2 linked regions of the Homo sapiens genome follow. The protein of the gene in region 2 interacts with the protein of the main gene of each other region in a biochemical or structural test. Each region holds a gene or a part of one and is shown on either strand. Other genes may lie near its edges. The genes, in order: SRSF9 and HABP4.

What was found.
Region 1: the proteins of HABP4 (region 2) and SRSF9 form a complex in vitro, tested with the Homo sapiens proteins (one study listed by BioGRID).

What each region holds. Positions count from the first base shown.
Region 1 is NC_000012.12:120,465,571-120,475,110, forward strand, and holds the start of SRSF9 (serine/arginine-rich splicing factor 9), read right to left. Parts: upstream 4,179-9,540; 5' UTR 4,040-4,178; coding exon 3,852-4,039; intron 218-3,851; coding exon 57-217; intron 1-56. UniProt on the Homo sapiens protein: Plays a role in constitutive splicing and can modulate the selection of alternative splice sites. Represses the splicing of MAPT/Tau exon 10.
Region 2 is NC_000009.12:96,479,936-96,489,497, reverse strand, and holds part of HABP4 (intracellular hyaluronan-binding protein 4), read right to left. Parts: intron 5,037-9,562; coding exon 4,865-5,036; coding exon of another isoform or gene 4,841-4,864; exon of another isoform or gene 4,839-4,840; intron 1,410-4,838; coding exon 1,224-1,409; intron 1-1,223. UniProt on the Homo sapiens protein: Ribosome-binding protein that promotes ribosome hibernation, a process during which ribosomes are stabilized in an inactive state and preserved from proteasomal degradation.

The sequences.
Region 1 (9,540 bases), on a different chromosome or scaffold from region 2:
GACTCTGTGTTAAGTATTTTACATGTATCATCTCATTCTGTTTGAAAGGAACATACCTGAAACAAGAACTCGGAAATCAGATCTTCTTGTAGGAGGCCCATTCCTCCCACCACGGGGCCACCCACCCCGACCTCCATAAGTCCTGGGGAACTCCACACGAAGCCGACACTGGCCATAATCATAACCATTTCTTCCATAAATAGCATCCTCTGCATCTCTAAAAAAAACAACAACAACAAAAAAAACGTTTGGAGTTAGTGCTGTTCAGGAGGCCAAGTGACTTTCCAAGTGAGGGGCATGAGTAGTAAGCATAAAAGGGAAACCTAGAGTGAAGAAAAAAACACACAAATCAGGATCCTGAAGCACTTCTGCTTTGGTTTGGAGACGTTTCATGATACTGGAATTAACCTTTACAGCTGTCACACGCAGTTTTAGAGGTATGAAATTATAATGAATGAGCAAACAGATTACTCATAAGAGGGCTAATTCAGAGAAAAAAAAGAATCAACTGCTGACAGATTATTGATTTTGCCAATAAACCATCAGTGTTTTTCTAATCTTCGTGAGCATTTTCTCGAAAAGCACACCACACACTAACCCCTTAATATTTTTCTACAAAGCCTAGTGCCATAAAGTCTATGGAAATAAAAAGTAGGCGGTTAGCCAGGCATGGTGTTGCACGCCTGTAGTCCCAGCTACTTGAGAGGCTGAGATGGGAGTGCAGAGCCAAGATCACACTACTGTACTCCAGCCTGGGTGACAGAGACCCTGTCCCAAAAAACAGGAAAAAAAAAGTAGCCAGTTAGATAGGAGAGTATTTGAGGGTAAATAAAGTAGCTGGGCATGATGTTTGAGCCCAGGTCAGGCCAGCCTGGGTAATATAGTGAGACCCGGTCTTTTAAAAAAATAAATAAATAAGGCTCAAAGGACAAAAGAAAAATGCAAATGAGTGTTTTGTGATGAATGTGGAACTTTTTTTTTTTTTGAAACGGGGTCTTGCTCTGTCACCAAGGCTGAGTGCAGTGGCTGGAGCATAACTCACAGCAGCTTCTAACTCTTGGGCGCAAGCAATCCTCCCACCTCAGCCTCCTGAATAGCTAGGGCCACAGGCGTGTACCACTGCACCCAGCTAATTTTTGGATTTTTTGTAGAGACAGGTCTCCCTCTGCTGGCCAGCCTGGTCTTGAACTCCTGGGCTCAGGCGATCCTTCCCCTCAGTCTCCCAAAGTGCTAGGATTACAGGCATAAGCCACTGCGCCTGGCCTTGGAACTCTAAGTGTACCTTTTCAGCATGGTTTGGAGAACTATTTTTGTCAAAAAACATTCTTTGGATACAATTTTGCCAAAAGAGATAAATATTCAATAAAATTACTTTAAGTCTTTCCTAGGACTCTAGGAGAGTCAGGAATGCCACGTTGATTCTCCAGTATTGGATGGTAGAAAGTGTGACCTTGGAGCTTGGGTGGACAAGAGGAGCTGAATGTGCTAATGAAGGCATTGTTCAGTGTCACAGGCACATAATCACTTGTAAGATTTTAGAACTAAAAGCAACAATGACCATATCCAGTGCAACCTTGACTACGTAAAATGCAGACTGGGAGAGGCAGAACTGCTAGGAGGTCAGAACAACTCTGAATAAAAACTGGCCAGCATTCAGGCCAGGCGCTGTGGCACATGCCTGTAATCCCAGCACTTTGGGAGGTGGATCACTTGAGGTTAGCAGCTTGAGACCAGTCTGGGCAACCTGGTGAAACCCCTCGTCTCTACTAAAAAGATAAAAATTAGCTGGGCATGGCATCGCGCAGCTGTAATCCCAGCTACTCAGGAGGCTGAGGCACGAGAATCTCTTGAACCCAGGAGGCGAAGGTTGCAGTGAGCTGAGACTGTGCCGCTACACTCCAGCCTGCACGACAGAGCCAGACTCCATCTCAATAAATACAATAAATAAATAAAATTAGCCTGCATTCAAATCACTATTCTGCAAATTACTAGTAGTCATCTCTGGGTAAGTGTTTAATCAAGTTTTTACATCTCTAATGTGAACAGTATGCCTATCTCACAGGGTTATTGTAATGGTTAAATAAGATACTACATGAAATGCTTTGCTTGAATCTTCACATCTAGTGACACCAAAAGATAGTTTTTCTATTATGAAAGGAATGAGGGAAGATGACAATGTAGCGTATCATATAGTAAGTTTGCATTCGAAAAACAGAAGAGGGAGTTCAAATCCATTGATCCCGGCCTGGCGTGGTGGCTCAGGCCTGTAACCTCAGCATTTTGGGAGGCTGAGGTGGGTGGATCACTTGAGGTTAGGAGTTCAAGACAAACCTGGCCAACATGGAGAAACCCCGTATCTGCTGAACATAGAAAAATCAGCCAGGCATGATGGCGGGCGCCTGTAATCCCAGCTACTGGGAAGCTGAAGCGGGAGAATCGCTTGAACTCAGGTGGCGGAGGTTGCGGTGGGCCGGGATCGCACCACAGCACTCCAGCCTGGGCAACAAGAGTGAAGACCTGTCTCAAAAAAAAAAAAAAAATAGTACCTACACCTCATAAATTGTTAAAAATACTAAATACAGGCTGGGCGGGTTGCTCACGCCTGTAATCCTAACAATTTGATCCGCTGAGACGGGAGAATCACCTGAGCTCAGGAGTTCCAGACCAGCCTGAGCAACATGGTGAAACCCCTAATTTATCAATCTAAAAAAATAAGAAGGAAAGAAAAAAAGCTAAATACACACCATGGCACTTGACCCATAGCAACTGTTGAAAAACCACAATGGCACGGTTACTAAATAAGCGAGGCATAGCCTTCTCCGGCTTAGGGGTAAAAATGCCCAGTTCCGGTTTTGAGGCAAATGAGGAGATACTAGGGATGAGCTGTCAGAGTCGACTCTTCAGCCATCAACGCCTCGCGGTGCTTCCTGCCTGCCCTTCCTCAGATGCTCCCCTTGCCCTATCAATACGTCCACCCCAGGTAGGTCGGACACCCTACGAACATTCCGCGTTCCCCGGGAGCAAATGATGCTAGGAAAACAGGGTGCGGGCTCTTATTTGGCCGGAGTGGAGTGACCAGGTCAGCGCCGCAGCTGCTAACCACCACCAACCACAGTTTTGAAAGTTCCTGGGCTTTTTCCGGCCTGAGGGCCGACGCTGTTTGCAAAATCACAAGCACTCCTTAGAGCGGGGTTAGGAATCTAGAGTTTCCAAATCCCTGGAACCTTTAGCATCTCGCCAAGCCTCCCTCATCAAAGGAGGGAAGTGAAATCAGAGCCCCACTCCGGCTGTTTTAGAAGTTTTCCCGAATCCGTGATCCCTTTACAAAGCCCGGGCCCTGGCCTGCGGGGCGGGGCGCGCGAACGGCGAGCTATTCCACCAGAGATCCCTCCACGACCTCCAGCGGCATCCGCGACCCTGCAGCTTGCTCTCCAGCCACGGCGAGCACGGGCCGGGGGAGAGGCGAGCGGGAAGGGCGAACGGCGACCCCCGCGCTGCCCCGCGGCCGCTTCCCCCTACGGTGCTGCCCCAGGCAGGAGGCGGACAAGGCTCATTTGGACCCCCCGAGGCCGGTGCAGGCGGGCTTGGGCCCTCCAAAGGCTCAGCTTTTGGGTTTCTAAGTAAAATATTGGAATAATAAAAATAAAGGAAGTGACGACGGCGCGAAGGACGGCCCGGGCCTGCGAGGAGAGGCTGCCTCATCCTCCACCCGTGAGGGGGCGCCGTGAGGGGTCTGCGCGGAGGCGGGGGGAGGGGAGGCCGGGGGGAGGGGAGCCCTGGGGGAGGGGACAGCAGGGAAGGCGGGGGCCTCAGGCACCGAGGAGGAGAGGGCAGGGGCGCGGGGGCCTCACCGGGGGTCCTCGAAGCGCACGAAGGCGAAGGGCACGAGGCCGTGCCGGTTCTTGAGCTCGATCTCGCGGATGCGGCCGTACTTGTAGAACAGGTCCTCCAAGTCCTTCTCGCGCACGTCGGTCGGAAGGTTCCCCACGTAGATGCGCCCGTCGCCCTCGCCGCCGCGCTCGTCCGCCCAGCCCGACATCCGCACCGCCCGACGCCGCGGGCCCGCCGCAGCCCACGTCGCCGCCGCCGCCTCAGCACGGGTCCCCCCGCAGCGTCCCCGCGGGCTCCGAGGCGCTCAGCCGCACTGCATTGTGGGAACGCGGAGCGGAAGCGAAGGGGTCGGCGGAGGCAAAAGGAGTCCTCTTAAAGAGAACGCGGCTGCGACCATTGCGCGTGCGCGCAGGCCGGCGCCCCCTGGAGGTGCGAAGGGCCTTCGGGCGCTGACAGGGAGAGCCTGGGGCCGGGCCGTGTGGATGCCATCCCCGAGCGCGGTTCGCGCTCGGCTGAGGCGCTGGACAAGTGGCTTGGGCTCCCGCGCCTCAGTTTCTCTCTGTGGCGCCGCCTACCTCACAGACTTGTGAGCACTCACTGACGTGGGTAGCGCCCAGGGCCTGCGGGGCGCAGGAGAGCTGGAGTCAGGCGGAGACCGCAGGCTGACCCCGCAGCGGCCGGGCTGTCGCGGCCCCCACCTCAGGTCAGTAGGCCCCCGGGCCACCCTGTCCCCATTTTACAGTTGCTCAGAACTGACGGTGTCAGCATGAGATGGACTCCATAGCTTGGCCTTGAGTTTGTCGGAGTCGAGGGAGTAAGACTCTTAATGAGTATCACAGCGATCACTATAGAGTGCATCCGACTTGTGCTTTTCATCCTCTCCCGGGCAGAGTCTGAGGCCACAGAGGGGTCAGGAATGGAACCCAGAGCCATGCTCCCATCCTAAGTACTGAGTCCTTATGGAGCTCAGGTAGACACCCACCTTGGCACTTACTTTTCCACATTCACATCCCAGAACGCGGAGCATTGAACCCAGGGACCTTACAGTGAGGCCTTGCACCAGAAGACTTTTTGTTTGTTTTTGATACAGGGTCTTATTCTGTTGCTCAGGCTGGAGTGCAATGGCGCGAACACGGCTCACTGCAGTCTCGATCTCGCTGGACTCAGGTGATCCTCCCACCTCGGGGCGCCGTGAGGGGTCTGCGCTGCGTCCAGCTAGTTTATTTTCTATTTTTTTTGTAGAGAGGCTGGTCTCGAACTCCTGGGCTCAACCGATCCTCCAGCCTTGGCCTCCCAAAGTGTTGGATTACCGGCTTGAGCCCGGCGCCCGGCTGGAATACTCCTAACCTAAAGATTGTTCAGGCTGGGTGCGGTGGCTCACGCCTGTAATCCCAACACTTTGAGAGGCCAAGGCGGGAGGATCACTTGAGGTCAGTAGTTCGAGACTAGCCTGGGCAACATGGGGAAACCCCGTTTCTACTAAAAATACAAAAATTAGCTGGGCGTGGTGGCGTGTTCCTATAATCCCAGTTACGCGGGAGGCTGAGGCAGGAGAATTGCTTGAGCCCGGGAGGCGAAGGTTGCAGTGAGCCGAGATCATGCCACTGCACTTCAGCCTGGGTGACAGAGTGAGACTGTCTCAAAAATAAATAAAGATTTTTCATATTAAAAATGAAACCTGGCTGGGCGTGGTGGCTCATGCCTGTAATCCCAGCACTTTAGGAGGCTGAGGTGGGTGGATCACTTGAGGCCAGGAGTTCAAGACCAGCCTGGCCAACATGGCAAGACCCGCCCCCCTACTAAAAATACAAAAAAAAAAAAAAATTAGCCAAGCTTGGTGGCACGCCTGTAGTCCCAGCTGCTTGGGAGGATGAGGCACGAGAATCGCTTGAATCTGGGAGGCAGAGGTTGCAGTGAGCCGAGATTGTGCCACTGCACTCCTCCAGCCTGGGTGACAGAGGGAGACTCTGTCTCAAAAACAAGACAAAACAAAAACAAACAAAAAAAGGGACTAAAACCACACATTTAATCAGAAGGTAGTTGATTTCTCATTATACCATCTGAGCATTTTAAAATCAAAACAAACCAAAGACTAGACACCCACATATACTACTGAGTGTATATCTTTTTTGGAATACAAGTTGATAGTATACATCAGGCTTTCATAATATACATATACCCTTCGATCTTGTAATTCTGCTTGTAGGATTTTTTGTTTGTTTGTTTTGAGACGGAGTCTTACACTGTCACCCAGGCTGCAGTGCAGTGGCGTGATCTCGGCTCACTGCAAGCTCCGCCTCCCAGGTTCATGCCATTCTCCCGCCTCAGCCTCCTGAGTAGCTGGGACTACAGGTGCCTGCCACCACGCCCGGCTGATTTTTTTATATTTTTAGTAGAGACAGGGTTTCACCGTGTTAGCCAGGATGATCTCAATCTCCTGACCTCGTGATCCGCCTGCCTCAGCCTCCCAAAGTGCTGGGAATACAGGCGTGAGCCACCGCGCCCAGCTGCTTGTAGGATTTTTATCAGACGGAAATAAGCAAGAGATTCTCATAATAAATTACATGTGTATATTTATCATTGCATTCTGTGCAATTAAAAAAATTAAACTTGATAATAAGGGAGTGGCTCAACACATTAACTTTGAATGTTACACAATTATTAAGTCATGTTTTTAATATGACAGAGATATTAAAGTCACAGTAATTTACAGTTAAAGTGAATTGAAAGTGGTGTTTAATGTATACACATATATAGTGTATTTGCTGCTTGTAACAAAAAAAAAATAGAAAAAGCTTTCCAAATGTTGTGGTTGTGGAGATATCTCTTGATGGCAGTGATTTCTATGTTTTTATTTATGCTTTTCTGTATTTCTCAAATTGTAATTAGCATGCACTACTTTTATAATTGGAATAAAACATAATAAATGATTCCTAAAATAAAACCATTATAACTATCTGTTGTATTCTGGATTATGTAAAGCATCTAGCTGTTCTCTAGACAAGCAGGAAAGAGCCCTGGCCAAATATGATCTCGAGTCTAAGTGTGCAGCCTTATAGGAGCTTACATATCCTATAGGCATCCGAAAGTCCAGATGCCTTCTCATTTTGGGTGGTGTGCTTAGGTGTATTAATACCATTCTCTGAGTCCTACCACTCCTATGTGATTGTTGCCTGGAAAGACAAAAAAGGAAAAAAAAGTGCTGTTGGAGACAATTGGGCAGTCTCCTAGGGAGAGAGAAATAGAGTCAGCTAAGTGACTCAATAGGACTGTAGGTGGAAAACTGCTTGCAAATAATAATAATTCAGCTTTAATTGTGCAATGTCCTGCAGCATACAATCTCCAAAGGAGTTCAGTTACCCAGCAGAAAATGTAGGGATGTGGTTAGTACAGGCTTCTTGGATTAGATAGAGCACAGCTAAATCCTTAGGAGGCATTTATGATCATCCATGAAACCCCCTTTATTCCTGTACTGACCTTTGCAGTTAGAACACAAATGAGACCACAATTATGACTTCATGTTCAAAGGGTTCATAGGTTCCATTCTCTGCTAAGGCCAGAGACTCTAGGCAGGGACACCTTTTAAACTTTTTGTTCATCTAGATATTCAACATTATTTATGATTTAGGTCCTGTATGAGGCCCAGGGCATGCAATAATACAGCTCTGTCCTTGAGTTGTGTATATAGGTTGCTATTCGGTCATGTAGAGTACAGTTGTGATAAGGATAAGCTGCTTGAGACTACATCGGAGGGTCACCTACCACAGTCTTAGAGATTCTAAGGAAGGCTTCTGGGAGGAGATGTTTAGAGTCTTGAAGAACCAGTAGGAGTTAACCAGGGGGAAGAGGGAAGGGCATTTCAGACAAAAATGAGGGCATGACTGCTGAGTGCAGTGGCAGTAATCCCAGCACTTTGGGAGGCTGAGGCAGGAGGATGGCTTGAGTCCAGGAGTTTGAGACCAGGCTAGGCAATGTAGTGAGACCCCTATCTCTACAAAAAACTTAAAAATTGCCAGGCCCAGTGGCTCATGCCTGTAATCCCAGCACTTTGGGGAGGTCAAGGTGGGTGGATCACTTGAAGTCAGGAGTTCGAGACCAGCCTGGTCAACATGGCAAAACCTCATCTTTACTAAAAACACAAAAATTAGTCGGAGGTGGTGGCGCACACCTGTAATCCCAGCTACTTTGGAGGCTGAGGCAGGAGAATTGCTTGAACCCGGGAGGCAGAGGTTGCAGTGAGCCGAGATTGCGCCACTGAACTCCAGCCTGGTCAACACCGAGACTCTGTCTCAAAAAAAAAAAAAAAAAAAAATTAAAAAATTATCTAGGCATGGTAACGTGCACCTGTGGTCTCAGCTACTTGATCTCGAACTCTTGAGCTCAAGTGATCCGCCCATCTCGGCCTCCCAAAGTGCTGGGATTACAGGCATTAGCCACGGCACCTGACAGTCCCAGCTACTTAAGAGGCTGAGGTGGGAGGACTGCTTGAGCCTGGGAGGTTGAAGCTGTAGTTAGCCATGATTGCACCACTGCACTCCAGCCTGGGCAACAGAGTGAGACTCTGTCTCAAAACATAAAAAAGGACACCATGAGAAATCACCCAAATAGGAGAGAGAGTAGCAGACCAGGGAAAATCCCTACTGGTGTGACTGGGGCAAGGAGTTCAAGCAGGGAAGAAGAGAGAAGGAGCTGAGGCACCACCAGCCTGGGCAACATGTTAAAACCCCGTCTCTACAAAAAATACAAAAATTAGCTGGGCATGGTGGCACACACCCATAGTCCCAGCTACTTGGGAGGCTGAGGGGGGAGAATCACTTAAGCCCAGGAGGCAGAGGTTGCAGTGAGCCAATATTGCACCGCTGCACTCCAGCCTGGGCGACAGAGTGAGATCCTGTTACAGAAATGGGCTTGTCCTTCTTTTCACCAAACTGAAAAGAAGCCTTTGATGTTGGCAGACTATTAAGAATTAATGCAGTTCCCACAGCAAGCCATTTATTCTCCACCAGAGTGTAGGGCAGTGCCCAACTGAAAAAAACAACATAAAAAAAAAAAAAAATCCCAAAACCAACAACAGCTCGGGTGATGAGTGCATGAAAATCTCAGAAATCACCACTAAATAACTTAAAGAACTTATCCATATAACCAAACACCACCTGTTCCCCAAAAACCTATTGAAATAAAAATTTAAAACAAACAAAAAACCAACAACGCCAGGCATAAAACATGCTGCAAACCTGCCCATCTGGTTTTCTCCTTTTCTCTGTGACATCAGTCCCCTCTGGCATCCCAGCAAAATATTTTCCTCTCTGTCAGGCTCAGTCATGAGCTCCTCCCAGACCTTGGCCCTAGGTATCAGTGGGCAGAGAGGAAGTGATGGGGGAGTAGACCATCTGAGAAGATGAGGAACTGGTCCCGCCTGGCAGGAGAGCTATGGAATGAGTCACTGGGAAACGTGTTCCTGGTCACAGCACCCTGGGAGCTTTCTCTGTCATTCTCTACCACTGTACTTGTGTGATGGAGTAAAATAAAACATATTCTGGAAAGCTACATAATAAAGAACTGAGCCATGCAGGGGAGGAAGAAGAGAAACAGCAGCAGAACTAGGAGGTTTGGAAGAGAGTTTGGAATTGGGGGTGAGCTTTAGGAAAGCAAGTGTCAAGTGTGGGAGGATGAGAAGAGAAAAATGGGAAAGATAATTCAAGATTTGCA
Region 2 (9,562 bases):
CTCCCTGGGATGAACCTCAATGGATGAGCAAAGGGAACAAGGACTTGGATTGGGAAACAGTGTGACCTGATGGGGGCGGGGGCGGGCCCTAAGGGCGGTTCTGAGGTGGAGGGATGCACAGGTTGTGGAGGTGGGGACAGATGCCAGTGAAGAGGTGGGTGGCACTGGATCTCAGAGTGGTTTCCCAACACACTCCCTGGAGTGCTGCAGGGGACAGAGCTCCGCTATAGGAAAGGAGTGAGGGTGTGTTTCCTATCGCAGAATAGACCCTATTTCCAACCTGGCCCCAAATATACCCCTACACCCCCCGCCCAAAAAATTGTGTTTTTGCTCCTGCTTAAGCAAAAACAAACCATAGACACTGCTTCCAGGGGCTGCTCCCTAGAGCGAGGGAACCGGGCAGCAGGAGGAGCATTGCCAAGACCAGCCACAGAGAAGGGGTCTGTGCCATGGGGCCTCGGGGCTGATTTCCAATGAATAAGTGTCCATACCACATTAGGAAGCACCTACTACATGCCAGGCACTGCGTGGCACTGCGTAAACCGGTAATGAGCAAAAGCAGCCGCTGACCGATAGCCACACCAGTGAGAATACAGCCGCACACGGAGATCAGGCTTCAATGAAAAGAAACTCCTTTGCTCCGAGACCTTGATCGGTCTAGGAGATGTGATCAAAGAAACCTGTGAGGAAGTGAGGCTGGAAGGATGAATGGAGGCCAGCAGGCAGAGGCCAGGGGTAAGGAGCGTGCTGTGTTGAGAGCTAGAATCAGGCAGCCTTGGCTGAGGACGGTGTGAGGCAGGTGAGCCGGGGAGGGGTTGAGGAAGGTCCCCTCACAAAGGGCTTGAGATCTTAGGGAGGATTCTGTCCACTCTGACAGCATCACCTGAGCCCAAGGCACACAATCAGGCCACAGTAAGCAAAACGTCAGGTGCTCCAGTTCAATCCCAAGCCTGGGGATCTTGTCTAATGCGGGTGACAGTGAGTTTCTCTCTGATCCCGGGAGTGCCTTCACAGCAGACCCTGGAAGCCAGGGCTACAGAACGGTCTCTAGGCAAGATGTCCATGATGCTACAACACCGTCCAAATGCCCCAACATCAGTCCCACACTAGCTACAGAAAGAAGTGACTGCAGAAACTCATGACCCTCTGAAATTAGACCATCCTGGGCCCAGGGCACTGTCCTTATTAACTTCTTTCGCCAAACCGTCAATACAGACACCTACCACCACTTCTGCTCTGGGTCCATAGTTCTCTGCCCTCCTGATCCTTCCCCGGCCTCCCCGGGTGCCTCCTCTGGCTCCACGCCCAGGACGAGGGAGGTTACCAAAATTAATCTCCAGCTGGGATGTGATGTCATTGGCGGGTTTCCGGAAAACATGGGAATCGTCCTCATAGTCATCTTTTACCATCTGAAACACAATTACAGCATCAAACACGCACAAGTCCACAGCCATCCCCACACTCATCTGGCTTAGTGGCTGCAGTGTGCTACACAGGAGCTAAAACACCATCAGGGGCTAGTCAGAGCCATTCTCTGGATTTGTCTCTGGCCCTGGGCTGCAGAGCTGGACAAAGGAAGACAGCACTGCTGTTCTGATTCTAAGACAGTGAGTTCTGTATGTTCTAGAGTCCCACATTCTTGCAATTACAATCTTAATCCAAACATCTTTGAACTTATTATGATTTCAAGTGGGACCAAATTTCTATCAGCTGAGCAGGTTAAGATATAAGATTTGGCATGACTAATAATAGCAAACAATATACATGTTTTATATCTAAGTGTATTTTGCTGAGATAAAAAAGTTTTCATTTCTGCTTATTTTCTGTCTTATCTGTTCACAAATGCTTTGATAAATAAGGAAATATCCCCTTCCCAGAACAGAACTTAACAGAGAAATTCCTTTCAGCATGGGTGCTGATTATAATACCATGTGCTAAAAATCACATGATTTATAATAAACAATTCTGACTCAAAATATAGAGAAACTTTATAAAAACAAGAGTATGGTTACCTGAGTGTTCTACCAACACTGCACAAAGAAGTCAAGCTGCTTTTTAAGAACTGCTTTCATTAAAATTCTATCTCTTGTGACAGCTATATTAAATAAATTAATTAAATCTGATCCAAATTTGATTTGGCTTCAACTCATAATAATGGGTATCACACACACACACACACAAAAACCCCACTTTAAGTAAAGTAAAAACCTACAGAAAGGAAGATATGTCAGTGATTTCAGATGAGAATCTCCAAAGTGCTACAACATTAAACATTCCTACAACCAGGAAATGGAGCAAAGTTTCCACGAGCATATCAACACCTTTAGGCCATATGCTCATGACAGCCTTCATGTTTAACATTTGTGTCCCCTTTGAGGTCTCAGGTTAAAATAAAGCAGAGGCTTTAGGTAGTTGGATGCTTAATGCTAAAAAGGTGAAGAAAAACAGTCCAGGAGCACTGGCATTCTGTAAAAAGATACACACAAAAAATAGTAACAGGCAAAATACTCAACCCTTGCCTTGTTTGGCACTCAGCAGGGAAGCGCTGGTAAGGTCTCCCTGGGGTCCCTGCTCTGAGTCGCCTCCCACTGCAGGAAGGGGCAGGAAGGGCCTCGGGGCAGTGGAGCAGGGAGTGGACACAGTCTAAGGCTTGGGCTCCACTTGCAGCTCCAGCTGGCCCTGGCCCAAGTGCTTTCACCGCCCAGTGCCTTACGCGAGGTTGTTACTAGGTCTGAACTTTGCTAGGTATTCTAGTGCTTCTGCCTCTTCAGGTGTCCAGAACAAAGTAAACTGATGAACCCAAGATCTGGCTTGTGTTGCTTTAAGAACAATTCCTAGCTAAAATCTTCAATCCTCCAAGATTAACAAGGACCAAGATGTGTGCTTCACTGAGACCAGGCTTGATGACTCAGCTAACCCACTTGCTTCAAATATTCTGGGAGACCTCTGGAGCCCGGGAGGACAAATCTGGTGTGGATTAAGAAAGAGCAGCTTCTATTTTTACCTAACATGTCAGCTGCATATTTCAATCCTGACAGCACATTTGTTTTAGAGAAATTTTTATTTACAATGCCTAGAACAAAAAAGAACAAAGGAAGTGGACAGGTTAAGAACCAACCCAGCTTGCTAATGGAGTTAGAAAACACCTCCCAGAGATTGCCAGGGAAATAAAGCTCCGGCCGCCTATGTCTACAAAAAGCCATTTCTTGTGGAACAGCTCAAAACTCAGTAAGGCCTCCTACAGCTTGGACTGACCAAAACAAGAGGATGGGAGAGAATCCTGTATCTTTTTTTTTGTTTTGTTTGGAGACGAAGTCTCACTTTGTTGCCCAGGCTGGAGTGCAATGGCGTGATCTCGGCTTGCTGCAACCTCTGCTTCCCGGGTTCAAGCGATTCTCCTGCCTCAGCCTCCCGAGTAGCTGGGACTACAGGCACCCGCCAACCGCCCGGCTAGTTTTTGTATTTTTAGTAGAGACAGGGTTTCACTATGTTGGCTAGGCTGGTCTCGAACTCCTGACCTCAGGTGATCCACCTGCCTTGGCCTCCCAAGAACCCTGTATCTTAAATGACACCTAATCAAAGTACTCACTCAGAAAATGAAACTAACCAAAGTGTAAATGACAACTCTACAATAGCATAACATTCCTGAGATTCCACATGAAAATCAATAACTAATACCCCACAGAGAGGAAGAACCTGCTACCTGCTCACTCCCACCTCGAAATAGTGACTGGTATCAAGCTGTAGATGGAATGATACAGATTCTAAATCCCATAATGGGAATGCTTCAGTGGACCTAGCCTTAAGTTCAGTAACAAGTCGGGGACTTGATGACCCCATGGCATCCCTATCAACATATGCTGCTAGATGTTTCCCCGAAACCTCTCCCTGCAAAACTGAAGCTTCTGAGAAGAGCTGGACGTAAGCCGTGAGCAATAAGGCCTCACAACACGGAGGAGCTCCCTGAGCAACCCCTGCAGCACGCTGGCCGCTGTGGCAGTGCCTGACCGAGCAGCCAAGCGTTCGGGGACTCATCTCCCGCCACGTCTGCAGTTAGGCAGGGGGCGCAAAGCTGCTGAACCAACATGGGAAAGGCGTCAGAAGTGCATGGAACCTCAACCACAGTTTAAAAAGTCATCAACTACTCGGCCAGGTGCAGTGGCTCACGCCTGTAATCCCAGCACTTTAGAAGGCTGAGGCTGGTGGATCACCTGAGGTCGGGAGTTCAAGACCAGCCTGACCAACATGGAAAAGCCCCGTCTCTACTAAAAATACAAAATTAGCCGGGGTGGTGGCGCATGCCTGTAATCCCAGCTACTTGGGAGGCTGAGGCACGAGAATCGCTTGAACCCGGGAGGCGGAGGTTGCGGTGAGCCAAGATCGCGCCACTGCACTCCAGCCTGGGCAACAAGAGCGAAACTCCATCTCAAAAAAAAAAAAAAGTCATCAACTACTCAGTGAAATGCTCTTATCAAGAAACAGAGTTGAAAGTAACCTACTCAGGGGACACAGAGTGTAGTTCTCCTTTGATTAACTCTGAATTGTACAAGACACAATCTGTAACTCTCCCTTGAGAAAAATGAAATACAGTTAATACACAGTATGTGTACAGTACCCGCATAGTCCCAGGGTGAGCAGAAGATGCACTGTCACTCTAACTGCTCTGTGCATCTGTCAATACCTCAAGTTTCAATTCCTTTTCTTAATGAACAATACAGTAAAATTAGGCATGCATCATCTCTGATTAGAAACAAAGACTGCCAACTACTAATGTTCCATTTTCAAGACAGAAGTGGAAAGGTACATTTCACTTCCAGTAAGGTAAAAGTAAAGATTACCTCTACATACGAAATGCAATGCTTACATCATCTCTGTATTTTGACTTGTGAATCACCACGGCTTTGGAAGGAACAGTGGATTCTGGTTTCCGGATGTTAAACTCAGGCTTTGGTCTGGTCTGTTCTTGAAGATTTTTCCACTCATCTAAAGTCATCTCTTGAACTTGGGTTTCTTCTTCTACCTCCAACTCAGGAACTCTATAAAGAGATATATAATCATAAAGAATACTTTTTGATGGTACTAAAATGTCTACTTTATAAAGAAAAAGTTATAACCATTAATTCAACATATTTTTGTGGTACTGCATTTCAAATGCAAATAAGGTAAGGAAATCTTTGACTCACAAGCTTCCATATTTCATTTTCAACATTTTATGTCATCACTGCCAACAGAAGATACTTCCTATCTGTGTTCAAATCAATCTTTGAAAAATGGGAACATCACCATCCTGATGACATTAACATCACACTTCACCACTGGCACTCCCTTCCAGACAGCATGACAGACAAAATGAGGTAATTATGGACAATGGGTTGAAATAAAATACAGGAAACCATAAACAAGTTTTAAAGCAGTGGCTCATGAATGCATACTTTTGCAAATATCCTCTTTAATGAGTTTTAAAAAGAAAACAAAAGACAGAAATATAGATTGAGAGCAAAGAATTCAGAGTCCAGAAATAAACCCTCACATTTACGGTCAACTGATTTTTTTTTTCCAACCGTGGTGCCAAAGACAATTCAATGGAGAATGAAAAGTATTTTCAACAAACGGTGCTTGGGCAACTGGATATCCACACACACCAAAAGAAAGAATGAAGTTAGACCTACCTCACACCATAAATACAAGAGCTAAAATATAAAACTCTTAGCAGAAAACCTAGGCAGAAACTTTCTTAACCCTGGACTGGGCAATGGTTTCTTCCACATGACACCAAAAAAACAAGCAACAAAAGTACATACATTGAACATCATCAGATACTTTTATACTACAAAGGACACCATCAAGAAAGTAAAAAGACAGTCCACAAAATGGGATAAAATATTTACAAATAATATATCTCACAAGGGACTTGTATCTAGAATACATAAAGAATTCTTTATGAACAGCCAAGCGTGGTGGCTCATGCCGATAGTCCTAGCTACTCAGGGGGCTGAGGTGGGAGGATCGCTTGAGGCCAGGCATCTGAGGCTGCAGTGAGCTATGATCACACGTGTGAATGGCCACTGTGTTCCACCTTGGGCAACAGAATGAGACACTGTCTCTTTAAAAAAAAAAAAAAGAATGCTTTATGAATTCTAGATACAAGTCCTCTTTAGTTGAGACAAATGACCACCCTCCCCCCAAAAAAGGCAAGGATCTGAGTGAACATTTTTCCAGAGAAGATATACAAATAGGCAGTAAGATGTTGCACATCATTAGCTATTAGAGAAAGACAAGTCAAAACCACAGAGCTGCACCAGTCCACACCCAGTGGGATGGTTAGAACCAAAACGACATTTGACAAGCGTTGGGGAGGATGTGGAGAAACTGGAACCCACATACACTGCCAGTGGGAATGTGAAATGGTGTAGCCTCTTTGGAAAGCAGTCTGGCGGTTCCTCAAAAATCTAAGCTGAGTTAGCCTCTGACCCGGAAATTTCACTCCTGGGTTTATACCCAAGAGAAATGAAAACACACATCCACATGAAAACTTAAACCCAAGTGTTCACTGCAGTGCTATTCATAATAGCCAAAAAGTGGACACAACCTAAATGTCTATTAACTAATGAGTGGATAAACCAAATATGGCACATTTTTTGGAATATTATCTGGCAATAAAAAGAAACAAAGTATTAATACACATTACGACATGAACAAACCTTGAAAAAATGATGCAAGTGAAATAAACCAGGCAGAAAAGACTTCTGTGTATGATTCCATTTACATGAAATATTCAGAGGAGCCAGATTCACACAGACAGGAGGCAGGTCAGTGGTGGCCAGGGCTGCAGGGAGGGAGGATAGGGAGTGACTGCTGAATGGGCATGGGGTTTCCTTTTGGGATGATAACAACCTTCTGGAGCCAGATCATGGTGATGGTTGCATAACACTCTGAATGTACTAAATGCCACTGAATTGTACACTTTAAAAGGATTAAAATCGTAGATTTGAAAATCATCACAAAAATACACACAAAAAAAGAAAAACAGAAATGAAGACTGGCACATGCTACAACATGAATGAAGCTGAAAACTTGATGCTAATAGTTAAAATAAGCCAGGTGCAAAAGGAACATTGAACGATTCCACTTAGATGAGGCACCTAGAATAGGCAAATTCATAAACACGAGTAAAATAGAGATTACTACATGCTGAGGAGAAATGGGGAGTTAGTGTTAAATGGATATAGAGTTTCTGTTTGTGATGAAAAAGTTCTACAAGGCCAGGCACAGTGGCTCAAGCCTGTAATCCTAGCACTTTGGGAGGCTGAGGCAGGCGGATCATGAGGTCAGGAGTTCGAGACCAGCCTGGCCAATACGGTGAAACCCCGTCTCTACTAAAAAATACCAGAAAAATTAGCCGGGTGTAGTGGAATGTGCCTGTAGTCCCAGCTACTCAGGAGGCTGAGGCAGGAGAATCGCTTGAACCCGGGAGGTGGAGGTTGCAGTGAGCCGAGATCGCACCACTGCACTCCAGCCTGGACAACAGAGTGAGATTCCATCTCAAAAAAAAAAAAAAAGTTCTAGAGATGGATGGTGGTGATGGTTACACACAATATGAATGTTACTGATGCCATTAAATTATATATATTAAAATGGTAAAAATGGCAATTTTTATGTTATTTTTACTGCAATTTTAAAAAATTAATAATGTAACATACCCCAAACCATCCATCCATGCATTCAGTCGTTTACTCATTTATTTGTTTGATACAGGCTGGGTTTCACTCTGTTGGCCAGGCTGGAGTACAGTGGCATGATGATGGCTCACCATACCTTCAACCTCCTGAGCCCAAGGATCCTCCCACCTCAGCTTCCTGAGAGTAGCTGGGACTACAGGTACGAGCCATCAGGCCCAGCTAATTTTTACAACCATTTTGTAGAGACGGGGTCTCTCCATGTAGCCCATGCTGGTCTTGAACTCCTGGCCTCAAGCTATCCTCCTGCCTCTGCCTCCCAAAGTGTTGGGATTACAGATCTGAACCACCACACCTGGCCTATATACTTAGAGATTTGAGTGCTATAGTACGAGAATTATATCTCAAAAGTGTTTAAGGGGAAAAAACAGGCCGGGCGCGGTGGCTCACACCTATAATCCCAGCACTTTGGGAGGCCGAGGCAGGTGGATCATGAGGTCAGGTGTTCAAGACCAGCCTGACCAACATGGTGAAACCCCGTCTCTACTAAAAATACAAAAATTAGCTGGGTGTGGTGGCACACGCCTGTAATCCCTGTAATCCCAGCTACTCGGGAGGCTGAAGCAGGAGAATTGCTTGAACCCGGGAGGCGGAGGTTGCAGTGAGCCAAGATGGCACCACTGCACTCCAGCCTGGGCGACAGAACAAGACTCTTTCTCCAAAACAAAACAAAACAAAACAGTAGGTGGGGAGTGGGGAATCAAATCTGTATCTTCACTGAAGAGCTGATGTAATTTAAGGTTCTATTATAGAAATACACAGATCAATGTTATGAAAAATATAAGCAAAATCAGTAGAGAAACCTAACCACAGAGCATCCAAAATAGACAAATTTGCAGTGACTCTACAATACCAAGCTGATGGTAGAAAAAACATCAAAGCAAAGATAACATGAAGGAATATGAAAGAACTTTCTGGCGTGATTGGTAATGTTCTGTATTCGACAGGAGTTTGGATTCCACAAGTACATGCATTTGTCAAAACAGTGAATGTACACTTAAGATTTATACATTTCATAGTATATACATTTTATATCAGAAGAAAAAATTGTAAACAAATATTAATTCTATTTAGTGATATGCATGTTGAACTATTTAGGGGGAAGTGTACAGATGTCTACAATTTATTATGAAATGTGTCAAAAAACATGGACTAATGAATACTTATGTAAAATGAATATATAAGATATAAATGGTAGCATTTAGGTAGTGGTAAGTATAGATGTTCGCTATAAAATTCTTTAAACTTTGCTGTGTTTTGAAATTTTCACAATAAAATGCTGGAAAAATACCAATATCAAAATATAGATCTCAAATATATATTGGCAAAAATATTAAAAGATACTAAGACATTGGAACAGCAAATTAATGGAAATAACCCAAACCTATCTAGAAAAGAACTTGGTGAAAAAACTATAGTATAGCAGCTAAAAAAGGAATGAGGACTATCTGTATATACTGCTATGGAGCACCTTCCAGAGTGAATGAGAAAAAAGCAAGGAGGGGTGTACAGTACCTTGGAGAGCCACACAAATATATATGCATAGCACCGATAGAGATAGATAGTTTTTTTGTTTTGTTTTGTTTTGAGACAGGGTCTCACTCTGTCACCCAGGCTGGAGTGCGGTGGTATGATCTCTGCTCACTGCAACCTCCACCTCCTGGGCTCAAGGGATCCTCTCACTTCAGCCTCCAGAGTAGCTGGGACTACAGGCATGCACCACCATACCCAGCTAATTTTTGTATTTTTTGTAGAGACTGGGTGGGGGAGGGTCTCACTTGTTGCCTAGGCTGGTCTCAAACTCCTAGGCTCAAGCAATCCACCCA